Linked DNA regions of Homo sapiens. The protein of the gene in region 3 interacts with the protein of the main gene of each other region in a biochemical or structural test. Each region holds a gene or a part of one and is shown on either strand. Other genes may lie near its edges.

Evidence for each region. Proteins that work in one complex are often made in the same cells at the same time.
Region 1: of the proteins of FN1 (region 3) and MEP1A, one has a biochemical effect on the other in vitro, tested with the Homo sapiens proteins (one study listed by BioGRID).
Region 2: the proteins of FN1 (region 3) and ITGB3 form a complex in vitro, tested with the Homo sapiens proteins (one study listed by BioGRID).
Region 4: the proteins of FN1 (region 3) and PDGFA form a complex in vitro, tested with the Homo sapiens proteins (one study listed by IntAct).

The regions. Positions count from the first base shown.
Region 1 is NC_000006.12:46,831,389-46,834,888, forward strand, and holds part of MEP1A (meprin A subunit alpha precursor), read left to right. Parts: intron 1-1,685; coding exon 1,686-2,150; intron 2,151-3,189; coding exon 3,190-3,363; intron 3,364-3,500.
Region 2 is NC_000017.11:47,305,827-47,309,326, reverse strand, and holds part of ITGB3 (integrin beta-3 precursor), read right to left. Parts: intron 1,857-3,500; coding exon 1,690-1,856; intron 1-1,689. UniProt on the Homo sapiens protein: Integrin alpha-V/beta-3 (ITGAV:ITGB3) is a receptor for cytotactin, fibronectin, laminin, matrix metalloproteinase-2, osteopontin, osteomodulin, prothrombin, thrombospondin, vitronectin and von Willebrand factor.
Region 3 is NC_000002.12:215,373,569-215,377,068, forward strand, and holds part of FN1 (fibronectin isoform 1 precursor), read right to left. Parts: intron 3,107-3,500; coding exon 2,930-3,106; intron 2,151-2,929; coding exon 2,061-2,150; intron 1,826-2,060; coding exon 1,646-1,825; intron 1-1,645. UniProt on the Homo sapiens protein: Fibronectins bind cell surfaces and various compounds including collagen, fibrin, heparin, DNA, and actin. Fibronectins are involved in cell adhesion, cell motility, opsonization, wound healing, and maintenance of cell shape.
Region 4 is NC_000007.14:499,803-502,846, reverse strand, and holds part of PDGFA (platelet-derived growth factor subunit A isoform 2 preproprotein), read left to right. Parts: intron 1-1,604; coding exon 1,605-1,731; intron 1,732-2,347; coding exon of another isoform or gene 2,348-2,403; exon of another isoform or gene 2,404-2,416; intron 2,417-3,044.

The DNA.
Region 1 (3,500 bases), on a different chromosome or scaffold from region 3:
TGTATGTACACACACATGCACACACACACGTTTTTACTGAGGCCAGGACTTCCTTATAGAAGACAATTCTGAACTAACAGGGATTAAATTTGTCTCAAACAATCGTAGTAGCATTATTGCCTGACTGATTTAGGGCAGCCCTGTGGAAGCATGTAAACGAAACCATCTTAATAATTTCATAGATGAATTTCTGCCTATGTGGTATAGCCTCTTGGGTCTCCTTCCCAGTGCCAGATTCCCCCATCTCAACCTCATTTTGACATCCTATATTAAGAAAAAACAAAGCAGGTACTAATCAGCAAGAACAGAATCCTATTCTCTTGACAGAATTCCCATGATCTATAACCTGCTGGATAAATAGTTCAAATCCTATATCTCTGTTCCTATTCCTAGACTTTCTGGCACCTATTACCCTTCAAGTCCATGTGTCTTCCACTAGGCTGCCATGCTCTCCGCAGGAGAGGGCAGCTGCCTAGATTTGTATGTTACAGAGGTGGTCGTGTGCCTTCTCTACCTCTCTCCTGTGTTCCCATGTAACCTACCTCTCTCCTGTGTTCCCATGTAACCTAACCACACAGGCCATAATCAGCTCCACCCTAAGAAACAGAACATTGTTAGACCTGTCCCTTGAAGTTGTACTTAGAGAGAATGGCCTGAAAACACAAGGGAGATTAAAGGTCTTTTCCTTTTCAGGGAAAGTATAGTTCTATAAGTAGATATCTGGTTAAAAGACACAGAAGAAGGAAAAAAGACACTCATCTGTAGGAACTCAGTTTAGCCAACATGACTTCCACTTGGAAGCATTTTTCCTCTCCTCTTCAAGCCCAACTCTAGGGAATACCCTGTGCAAAAATATCAGTGTAGGCACATCTCTTTGCGGAATTGAGTTGCTTTGCTTTCGCAGTTTCCTCTCTCCAGTACCCCCAAGCTCCTGTCTGGCTTCTTATACTGTTCAACCCAGGATCCTATGTTCTAGAACGGCCTTCTCACCATCTTTCCTCAGCTCTTAATTCGAAAGTCCCACTTCTAGTTCATGCTCAGAGAAAAAGCAAGTAGACCTAATCTTTATTAGAACGTGCATTTCCAGACAATAGTACTCTATTTGGCTTACTTTGCTCCCCTACATGGTGGACTTTCAGATAATATAAGGAAGAGAAAAAAGTCTAGATGTTGGAGAGGGAGTCAGTTTTAGGTAGGGAAGATCCAGTCAGTCCTACAGGTTATTATCTGCTCTTCAGCATTCCTTATAGCTCTCTGGCAACAAGTGACAGGTCGGACCATATGGAGTTACTATTTTTTTTACTTTTGGCTTAGAAAATGGCTATTTTATATGATTCAGCCTAACACTTGGGTTTTCTTTGCTAACCTTAGGGGTTACAGTTGAACCAGCCAACTCAGGAGGAAATCCAGAACCTGGATTCTTATAGTGGAAAACAAATTCACGGTTAAGATTTGAATGTGAATTTTAAAATAAATCATAGTATTTTAAAAAACAATTTTTCCTTATTAGGTATGTAACTTTGGAAAAGTTACTTAACCAGTTTATAACAGTACCTATTTTATAGGGCTGTTGTGAGGATTTAATGAGATAATTTATGGAAAGCACATGGCACTGTGCCAAACTCATAATAAGTACTCATTAAGTGTTGGTCACAGTTCTCACCAGCCTTGTTCTCTGTCCTCAGGAGATGATGACCACAATTGGAAAATTGCCCATGTGGTGCTCAAAGAGGAACAGAAGTTTCGCTACCTTTTCCAGGGCACAAAAGGCGACCCTCAGAACTCAACTGGGGGAATTTACCTAGATGACATCACTCTGACAGAAACCCCCTGCCCCACAGGGGTCTGGACAGTCCGGAATTTCTCCCAAGTCCTTGAGAACACCAGCAAAGGGGACAAGCTTCAGAGCCCTCGATTCTACAATTCGGAGGGATATGGTTTTGGGGTAACTTTATACCCAAATAGCAGAGAAAGCTCTGGTTACTTGAGACTTGCTTTTCATGTGTGCAGTGGGGAGAACGATGCTATCCTGGAGTGGCCGGTAGAAAACAGACAGGTGATAATTACCATCCTTGACCAGGAGCCTGATGTCCGGAACAGGATGTCCTCAAGCATGGTGTTCACTACCTCGAAGTCGCACACATCTCCAGGTGGGTGGTGTCAGCGCAAATAAGAACTGCCCCTTGAACCAGAGAGGCCCACAGATGTGATTCTGTGGTGCAAGAAAGAGTAACGTTCTCCTCACATTGTCTGTTTGGGAATACCAATAACATAGTCTTGTTGGAGTTTCAAGTCAAGATTTTCAATGCCATCACATCCTCCTTCCCTTTCCTAAATTCACTCATCAAACATCTATTGAGGGCTTACCATGTGCCAAAGTCGGTGCTAGGTACTTAGAATACAAGTGAATCAGGTGATCCCTGCCTCACTGAGCTCGTTGTGATTGAGGAAATAGATACTGCTAATCATTTATCAAATACTTGGAACTTGCTGGGCTCTGTGCAGAGCTAATGTACTTACTCCTAAAATAGTACTCAATGTTACTATGTTCATGAAGTAAACTTACATCAGTAAAGAAATGGGCAAACTATTTTTTTTTTTTTTTTGAGATGGAGTCTCCCTCTGTCGCCCAGGCTGCAATGTAATGGCGCATTCTCGGCTCACTGCAACCTCCACCTCCCAGGTTCAAACAATTCTTCTGTCTCAGACTCCCGAGTAGAGATGGGGTTTCACCGTGTTGCCCAGGCTGGTCTTGAACTCCTGAGCTCAGGCAATCCACCCGCTTTGGCCTCCCAAAGTGCTAGGATTACAGGCGTGAGCCACCACGCCTGGCACTAATTTTTTTTTTTTTCAAAAGAGAAGACTTAAGCCTTAGAAGAAAGAAGCCGTAGCTGTCCCTCTCTTTTCATTAAGAAAGTCGCTCAGTAGCAGACAACTGATCACTCAGAGCTGTGATTCTCTGCCTCTCCCATCTTTCAATTCTGAATTGCAATTCTCCTGGAAATAGTAAATAGCCTAATTTTTTTCCAACACTTTTTTTATTTTTATATTTATTTATTTATTTATTTATTTATTTATTTATTTATTTATTTATTTCTGATTCACAAAGCCCTGTATCCTCATTAAAGACAAACTGGAAAGTGAAGTCTAAAGAGGTAATGTGATTTTATGTTACCTACAACTTTGCAGCGATAAATGACACTGTCATCTGGGACAGGCCGTCCAGGGTGGGAACCTATCATACGGACTGTAATTGTTTTAGAAGCATCGACTTGGGCTGGAGTGGTTTCATTTCCCACCAAATGCTGAAAAGGAGGAGTTTCCTGAAAAATGATGACCTCATCATATTTGTGGACTTTGAAGGTACTTTTGTTGGTCTTCCTGAGTAAATAATCCTATGCTCTTGGCACTCTACTGATTTTATCCTGATTTTTAAAGCACACACGGAGGGTGGGGATGAGGTTAAAACAATGTGTTGTAGGAGAATCACATTTTATTCA
Region 2 (3,500 bases), on a different chromosome or scaffold from region 3:
AATCCCAGCACTTTTAGGGGCCAAGGTAGGAAGATCACTTGAGCCCAGGAGTTCTAGACCAGCCTGGGTAACAGAGTGAGACCCTGTCTCTACAAGGGAAAAAAATACAAAAATTAGCTGGCTCGGTGATGTGTGCCTGTAGTCCTGGCTACTTGGGAGGGTGAGGTGGGAGGATCACTTGAGCCCAGGAGATGGAGGCTGCATTGAGCCATGATGGCACCACTGCACTCCAGCATGGGTGACAGAGCGAGACCCTGTCTCAAAAAAAGAAGGAAGGAGGGAAGGGAAGGGAAAGAAAAGGAGAGGAGGGGAGGAAGGGAAGGGGAGGGGAGGAAGCGTAAAAGGAAGGGGAGGGGAGGAGAGGGGAGGGGAGGGGAGGGAATGGGAGAGGAGGGGAGAGAAAGAGAAAGCACTATCCACAAACTGTCATGTTATCAGGAAAAAGTAAGACCCTCACTAGGTTTCCCAAACTATTTTCCAACAGAAAGTAACAAATCCTATAATGGTAGCTTCAAGAAACACATTCTTAGCCAGGCGCAGTGGCTCACGCCTGGAATCCTAGCACTTTGGGAGGCCGAGGCGGGTGATCACGAGGTCAGGAGTTCGAGACCAGCCTGGCCAACATGGTGAAACCCCGTCGCTACTAAAAATACAAAAAATAGCTGGGCACAGTGGCTGGCGCCTGTAATCCAGTTACTTGGGAGGCTGAGGCAGGAGAATCACTTGAACCTGAGAGGCCAAGGTTGCAGTGAGCCAAGATCGCTACACTCAAGCCTGGGTGACAGAGCAAGACTCTGTCTCCAAAAAAAAAGAGAAAGAAACACATTCCTGTGGGCCTCATAGGTACAGGATGTTCCACACTGTTCTAACAGAAACATCTCAGTTTCTTGGGACCCTTGAGTATAAAGCTCTGGGGTCAACATCAAATGGGAACAAACTTGCAGCCTAACTCTGGACATTTGGGGAGTCAAATAGCCATTTGGAGGGTCGAGGAAAAAAGTTGAAATGTGAAAGAAGAGCCAAAAGAGAATAGAGTAAGATTAAGTATATAGAAAGTTCTCAGTAAATGCTTATTTAATTGGAATAAATCAGGATAAAAGAGTAGAGTCTGATTTGGAAGTAACCTTTTATTTTATTTTATTATTATTATTATTATTATTATTATTTTTGAGACCGAGTCCTGCTCTGTCACCCAGAGCAGGGTGCAATCTCAGCTCACTACAACCTCTACCTACTGGGTTCAAGCAATCCTCCTGCTTCAGCCTCCCGAATAGCTGGGATTACAGGCATGCACCACCACACCCGGCTAATTTTTATATTATTAATAGAGACGGGGTTTCACCATGTTGCCCAGGCTGGTCTCGAACTCTTGAGCTCAAGTGATCTGCCCACCTTGGCCTCTCAAAGTGCTGGGATTACAGGCACGCGCCACCAGGCCCAGCCTGGAAGTAACCATTTATTTGAGGAGAAAGAAGAGAATGAGATGGAATGACATCCTGCCACTATTTCTAAGAGGCTGAAGGAAGCTGAAGGACAAGGGGATAGTGAGACCATCTCTCCCAGTTTCCAGAACAGAGGATAATGGAAAGACGATGGTACTGGCTGAACATGACCACCCAAAGCATCTGCTGCTTCCACTTAAGAGTCTCAGACCAATGACTTTAGAAAACGCCCAGCCCCGTCTCTTACTGTGTCCCATTTTGCTCTGGCGCGTTCTTCCTCAAATTTAGCGAATTCTTTTCGGTCGTGGATGGTGATGAGGAGTTTCCAGATGAGCAGGGCGGCAAGGCCAATGAGCAGAATGGCCCCCATCACTGAGAGCAGGACCACCAGGATGTCAGGGCCCTTGGGACACTCTGTGAGGAAGAAGCACAGAGCAGGGCGGTTGTGAATGAAGCAGGAGTCACTTGAACTGGCTATGAAAAAGGTGTTCTTGACAAAGTAACTAAGGTCCTTGAAGGAAATAGGACAGTTTTCAAAAATTAATTTTTTTAAGGAGACAATCATTAGGACAGCAATAATCTGCACTGAGTGGCTCAAATCAGAAGTCTAGACCTGGTAACCCCTAGACAGAACCCAGCCACACCTTTGTGTGGGGGTTCACCCAAGTGTTTATTTTAAAAATTAAACACAAAGAAGAGAACACCAGACACTGGGACCTACTTGAGGGTGGAGACGGGGAGGAGGTGGGGATCGAAAAACTACCTATGAGTCACTATGCTTATTACCTGGGTGATGAAATAATAGGTACACCAGACCCCCATGACTCACAGTTTATCTACGGAACAAACCCACACATGTACCCCTAAAGCAAAAATAAAAGTTTTTTAAAAAATTAAAAATAAAAAGCCGAGTGTGGTGGCTCACACCTGTAATCCCAGCACTTTGGGAGGCCAAGGTGGGCAGAGCACCTGAGGTCAGGAGTTTGAGACCAGCCTGGCCAACATGGTGAAACCCCATCTCTACTAAAACTACAAAAATTAGCCTAGCATGGTGGCGAGCACCTGTAATCCCAGCTACTTGGGAGGCTGAAGCACAGAATCACTTGAACCTGGGAGGTAGAGGTTGCAGTGAACCGAGATCACACCATTACACTCCAGCCTGGGTAACAGAGCAAAACTCCATCTCAAAATAAATAAATAAATAAATAAATGAATAAGAAATAAAAAATTGACTTTATTGGCAATATTGAATAATCAGGAGATTCTCCCCCTAAAATTTCATATTAGTCTCTTTAAAAAGAAAATCCAGGCCAGGCCCAGTGGCTCATGCCTATAATGCCAGCACTTGGGAGGCCGAGGCAGGAGGACAGCTTGAGTCCAGAAGTTCAAGACCAGCCTGGGCAACATAGTGAGGCTCTGCCTCTACAAAATTGTCTTTTTTAATTAGCCAGGCATTGTGGCATATGCCTGTAGTCCCAGCTACTCAGGATGCTGAGGTGGGAGGATCGTTTGAGCCTGGGAGGTCAAGGTCATAGTGAGCCATGATCGTGCCACTGCTCTCCAGCCTGGATGACAGAGGGAGAGACTATCTCAAAAGAAAGAAAGAGAGAAATACAGAAAGAGAGAGATTCTTATATTCCTGCAGAGCAGCAGTTAGCTAGAGCTGAGGAGGAGCTGCTCCTTTTAGTTGGAACTCATGTTTTCTAGTTTACCAGAATCCCCACCACTCTCCCTTCTCTCTCCTAGAGGAAGGCAGTGTGACTTGTTGGTGTGTCTGCGCTCCTGTGGATGTTACAGCCAGACTCCCTGGGTTTGAATCCTGACTTATCACTTAACTTTTATACATGATCTTTGGAAAATTACTTAACCTTTCTGAATGTCTGTTTCCTGTTTCTCCATCTTTAAAATGAAGATAGTAATAGCACTGACTTTAAAAGAAACTTGTTATGAGGAATGATTAAATTAAATATATCTTAAAAACTCAGAACAATGCCTGGCACAGAGTAAGTGCTCAGTAAATATCAGCTACCGTTGTAACGGATCTTCTTACACCCAGCT
Region 3 (3,500 bases):
ACCCAAATATCCTGCATATAAAGTCCGCATCGCAAACTAATTATCTTACTATCATATCTGACGCCTGAATAGACATTTTTTGGCTAACTTTTCCAGGGTATTCTTTTTTTTTTTTTTTTTTTTTTTTTTGAGATGGAGTCTGGCTCTGTCACCCAGGCTGGAGTGCAGTGGTGCTATCTCGGCTCACTGCAAGCTCCGCTTCCCAGGTTCAGCCATTCTCCTGCCTCAGCCACCCGAGTAGCTGGGACTACAGGCACCCATCACCACGCCTGGCTAATTTTGTTTTTGTATTTTTAGTAGAGATGGGGTTTCACCGTGTTAGCCAGGATGGTCTCGATCTCCTGACCTTGTGATCTGCCTGCCTCGGCCTCCCAAAGTGCTGGGATTACAGGCGTGAGCCACCGCGCCTGGCCTTTCCAGGGTATTCTTTTAACGTGGTCTTATTTGCCTTTTTGAATTTAAGAAAATCTATCAGCATCATATACCACCACTGGAATATAAATTTGAAAGAGAGTCCTGCAGATTATATACATGAATCTACTTAGGCCTAATAACCAAGCAGTCCTCAGTGGCAGATCAATGAAAAGTGAAACTAAAGGCAAGTGAAGGGTAGGAGAGATTGGCCAGTGTTTGTGCAGCCTCTGTGGGAAGTGTCTAGTTCAATTCCTCTCATGTCTGCTTCTATTTTCCTGTTCCCCCCAATTCTAAAAAGCCAGTGTCTCCTTCTAATGTCTGTATGTTCTGTGGGAATTTTAAAGTCCAGGTGATACTCTATACAGACTGATATGGTTTGGCTCTGTGTCTGCATCCAAATCTCATCTGGAATTGTAATCCCCATGTATTGAGGAGAGGAGGTGATTGGATCATGGGGTGGTTCCCCCAGGCTGTTCTCATGATAGTGAGTTCTCACAAGATCTGATAGTTTTGTAAGTATCTGGAAGTTCCTCCTGTGTGCTTCTCTCTCCTGCTGCCATGTAAGACATGCCTGCTTTTCCTTCCACCATGATTGTACATTTTCTGAGGCCTCCCCAGCCATGCGGAACTGTGAGTCAATTAAACCTCTTTATAGCAGTATGAAAACAGACTAATACAGATAGTTTAAATATTTCATCTCTTGGGCAAAAATAATACTAGAGGCTTATAGTCTTTCCCACCAAGGTAGACAACTCTTATTCCCCATTCCAGGCATTCTTCCAATGTGGGTGGTTGGGACTGCTCTGCCTCAAGACCTATCCTGTGATAGTGGTCAACAAGGTCAATGGCAGGTGGTGCACTGGCAAGTCCTGCAAGATTGCCATATCTATAGAGAGCTGAGTGTAATGACAGAATCACAATCAGCTAGTATGCTTTGAAAAATATCTTTCTCCAGGACTGAATTGACAGGTATCTGGCAAACTTGCAGCGAAAGGAAAACATGAGTCTAGTCATGCCATTAGTACAGTCTTGAAATTGCATTTTCCTTCACTCATGCCTTTTGGGATGTATTAGGCTCTACCACTCCTACACAGAGAATGCTTTTTGAGGTTATCAGGAACAGAGTTTCGCATTCTCATGACACAGTATCAAAGACGCTGTGGGAGTTTGCTAAGGACTTCATGTGTCCTAGGTAGTAAGAAGGAAAATGACAGCATGGAAGCAGCAATACCAGTAATAGTAGCCTCTGTGACACCAGGGCGGGGCCGAGGGACCACTTCTCTGGGAGGAGACCCAGGCTTCTCATACTTGATGATGTAGCCGGTAATCCTGGCACGTGGCGGCTGCCATGATACCAGCAAGGAATTGGGTGTGGTGGCCAGGAAACGCAGGTTGGATGGTGCATCAATGGCTGAAAGAAAACAAAATTAAGTCTCTAAGAAGGCAAATAACCAAGAAAATTACTCCCACACTTTTCTCCCGAGCCGTTCTAAACACACTTAAAAGAATCTGAGAATACTGTAAACCGGAAACAAGATTCTCTGGAATCTATAATACAAAAATATACGCCTCACATTTGTTTTTTGAGTTCATGAAACTGATTGCATACAAGTCAATGGCATTTCCTCAGTAGAAGGTATAGTTACCAGTGGAGGCGTCGATGACCACAGGGGAGCTCCGAGCATTGTCATTCAAGGTGTACAGGTAGATCTTGTAGTCAGTGCCTGGTTGTAAACCTGGGATTTGAGAAGAGATGATTTTTAACAGTTCTTGCTTTTTACTAGGAGAATTCTCAAGCTAGCCTGCAATTTTTCTGGGTTCTTCTATCATCCCATATTTATATAGACTACCAAAGTGGTCCACATTTGAACAGTAAAGTAGAGCATGCTATGGATGTTAACTGTTAACAAGAAACATATCTCGAAAGTGAATCACTGATACAGACAAGGACACTGGTAAAGTAAATTCTGGAATGCAAAAATGCTATGTTGGAAGAGGCCCTCTTGCAGAATGGGGGTCAGCCACTTATTGAGGTTTTCTCTTTACCGTAATCAGATGGTCAATAGTTGAGCCTTGGAATCACAATTTTAAAAAGCTAAAAAAGACCTCAGATATTGAATATTCTTCGGTTACAATTTTGGCCTTTATTAAGTGGTATTGTTTACTTTTATATTAACTATGCTTTTTAATGCTAAGATCTATACATCACTGTTTTTTATTTCTTTTAGTTTTAAACCTTATGTTACAATTTTTTAAATAAGAAAGGGCACAATGATGGAAGATCAAACTTGTTGATTGACACTTACGCAATTTCCATGACAAATATTACACAAAATCAGGCATTCAAAGGACAAAACTATTTCTGATCATAGCATGAAAATAACGTTCTAAAACTGGGTTATGATGATAACACTGAAAATAAATTTTATCAGTGTCAGTCGTAGAACAGTTAATAAGCCCGTTTACATTGTGGGTATTTGTTAACAAATGTGGTTAGTGCAATGAGTTCCCTGACCTGTGATGGTGTAGCTTCTGACATCTGGCTTGATGGTTCTCTGGATTGGAGTCTGGCCATTGGCTGGAACGGCATCAACTTGGAAGCCAGTGATCGTCTCAGTCTTGGTTCTCCAGCTAATGGTGATGGTGGTCTCAGTAGCATCTGTCACACGAGCCCTTCTTGGTGGGCTGACATCTGCACAGGAGCATAGCTAGAGATTAGTGCCTGCTTGGCTCATCCATGTAAAGTTTTGGTATTTTAAAACGTTTCCTTGGTATATATCAAATTCATCCATTTCAAGAAATATATAACTAGTAATGTGTAGATTATCTCCTTTGGCATTCAGAGAGAAAGGTCAACTGTAATTAGAAAATAGGAAAATATCTACCTCTCAGACATTTTATTTTGAAGAGCTGAAAAGCTTTATAGATACTACCAGTGGTTCCCAGGGCTGGCTTTATAGTATCTACAAATACTTCAATAAATATTAAAATTATTAATGTATTATAATGTAAAAATATGTGTGGTAGGAGTTACAATAACATGGCCAGCTAACAATTTTGTGTGTGTGTGTGTGTATGTGTGTGTG
Region 4 (3,044 bases), on a different chromosome or scaffold from region 3:
AGTTGTGTTCCCGTGACAGGGCCTATATGTGCATTATGTGTGTGTGTGTGTGTGTGTGTGTGTGTGTGTGTGTGTGTGATTTCTTGCCTCTCTTGTTGAATGCCTGAAGCTCCCCTCTCTGGCCTGGACTGGGCCATTGTCTGCCTGCAGCTCCCCGGGGAAGGGGCTGTGGAGGCAGGACCCCCATGTTGTGGTTTTGTGCCTGGAGAATTGAGGGCAGGCGTGGCTCGCAGACAGGCAAAGTCCAGTCCGAAGAGGGGAACCCAGCTGAGGTCTGGTTCGCTTTTGAGCTGCCTGTGCCTGATAGCCACGGCCTGCTGGCCTGTGCTCCTCCTGGATCATCTTGTGTAGCCTCGGTGATGGCCCAGGATCCCTGGCCCTGGTTTCCGAGGTCAGGCCTCTCCGAGCCCAAGGAGAGCCTCGGACCTGGGGGAGCCATGAGGGGACCCTGGGTATGGGTCTGCTGGCCCTGCTGCCTGGGGCCGGCGGGGAGGTGGGGCCCTCATCAGGCCAGCAGCTGGGATTATCATCTGGACGCTCAAGTCCACAGCAACCTTGGGCTAGGATACAGCCACGAACCCCCCATTCCTAGGCCATGGCTTTAAATTTTTTTTTAATATTAATAGAGACAGGGTCTTGGTGTATTGCCCAGGCTGGAGTGCAGTGGTGTGATACCAGCTCACTGCAGCCTCAAACTCCTGGGCTCAAGCGATCCTCCTACCTCAGCCTCCCAAGTAGGCTGGGACTACAGGTGCCACCATGGCTTGCTAATTTTTAAATTGTTTTTAGAGGCAGGGTCTTACTATGTTGCCCAGGCTGGTCTTGAACCCCTGGAGTTAAGTGATCCTCCCGCCTTGGCCTTCCAAAGTGCTGGGATTACAGGCGTGAGCCACCATGCTCAGCCTGGCTTTTAAAATGTATTTAAAAACAACGTGATCATTTGAAAACATTTCCCAGCTGCACATCCACACACAAGCAAACACTTTCCCTGGCCACCTGCACCCCAGAACTCCCAAACTTCCACACCTTAGCAGTGTGCATCCTTCAGCCCCCCCAGGCACACGTGAACCTTTGGGTTTATTTTAAACAAAAATAGGATGAGTCTGCTAAATACCATGCTCCAACACCAGGCGCGGCGGCTCTCACTTGAAGTTCCAGCACTTTGGGAGGCTGAGGCAGGAGGATCACTTGAGTCCAGGAGTTCAACATCAACCTCGGCAACATAGCGAGATCTCATCTCTTCCACACAAAAAAAATATTTAAAATTAGCTGGGCATGGTGGCCTGTGCTTACAGGTGGGAGGCTGAGGTGGAAGGATCACTTGAGCCCAAGAGCTTGAGGCTGCAGAGGCTATGATTGGCCTAGGTGACAGGGTGAGACCCTACTCAGAAAAAACTAAAACACACACACACAAAACTGCACTGCAGCTTGTAGGTTTTTCACCTGGTACTGCTACACTCCCCACCACAAGGTAGTGTTTCTGGGAGGAGGTCAGGGGTCAGGCTGCTCTCTCCTCCCTCTCAGCCTGTCCCCGGCTCCCAGCACGTCGTGATGTCCGAAGCTCCATGCAGGCATTCATGGCCGGGCTCTGTTCTCTCTGGCAGGTGGCCAAGGTGGAATACGTCAGGAAGAAGCCAAAATTAAAAGAAGTCCAGGTGAGGTTAGAGGAGCATTTGGAGTGCGCCTGCGCGACCACAAGCCTGAATCCGGATTATCGGGAAGAGGACACGGGTGAGTGGCTGCCTTCGTCGGCATCGGTGTTGGAGAACAGGTCTTCAGAGCCTTGCTTTTGGGGTGTTAGGTGGCCCCCTTGAGCGCAACGCTTACTGCTGTGAGCATCTGGGCTGCTGTTGAAGGATTCGTTGCCCTGCTCCCGGGCCAGATGCCTGCGGGGGAGACGGATCCCACACCTGCAGGTGTCCGGTGGGGAGGGTGGCCCAAGCTGCGGCACTGGCAGGAGAGGAGATTCAGGTCTCACTGAGAGGGGCTGGGAGTGCATAAGACACCCAATTCATTAGTGGGCTGCGGGGCTGAGCTGAGAAGAATCTGCAGAAGGGCCTCCTGCCAGGGTGGGCGGGAGGAGCAGGTTCGAGGACTGCAGTTGCCCTGGCTGGCTGGGGTCTCTCCTTCACCCCGCCACGCGGACTCCACCCAGGAGCAGAATGGCTTCTGTGCCCTGCTATGGCTGGGCCCTGGGAGCATGAGGGGACTCAGAAGTTTCTCGGTGCCAGGGTGCTGGCCTTCTCTTCTGGAAAGATAAACAAATGCCGTAGGTATTTGTTGCTTCAGTTCTTCACCCCGACGGCCGTCCCTCGGCCCACTCACCGCCCTGCCCTTTTGTTAACAGGAAGGCCTAGGGAGTCAGGTAAAAAACGGAAAAGAAAAAGGTTAAAACCCACCTAAAGCAGCCAACCAGGTAGGACTGTCTGCCGGACACACTGAGTCCTGCAGGGCGGGGAGGTGCAACTGACTGATCACACCAGCAAATCACGCTTCCTGTCTCGCCGGGTGCGGCGGGGATGTGGCCCTGATTGGCCTTGATGGTGTCTGCTGGGCTTGGGTCTCCTTGCTCCCCGTCCGCTCCTGCCTCGCAGAACGCCCTGGCCCGTGGCTCACTCCCGCTTGGGAGCCTGCCTCCAGCTTTGTCCTTCTCTTTGTCGTTGATTGGGGATGCAGGAGCATTGCACATGAATGGAACAGGTTGGGCGACCTGAGCAGCGGTGGGGCAGCTCTGAGCGCCTGGCCACTCTGGGATCACCCACCCCATTTGACAGATGAAAAAACTGAGGCTTAACTGAGATTACAGATAAGGACTGTTGGAGGCTGAATATATCTGGAAATCCTTTATAAACGTGCAGGGCTGTTGGCTACTGTGTTGGAAATTGCATTTGGCTGCTAGTAACACCAGACAGCACAGGGATTGAGATAAGATCGAGCTTCATGACTTTCATCTAAGGGTGGGATTGCAGAGCAGGGAGGGTAGTCTTGAGGTATCATCAGTGTCCGCCTTCTGTCTGGCTAGTGGCATCCATCTGCAGTTGCCT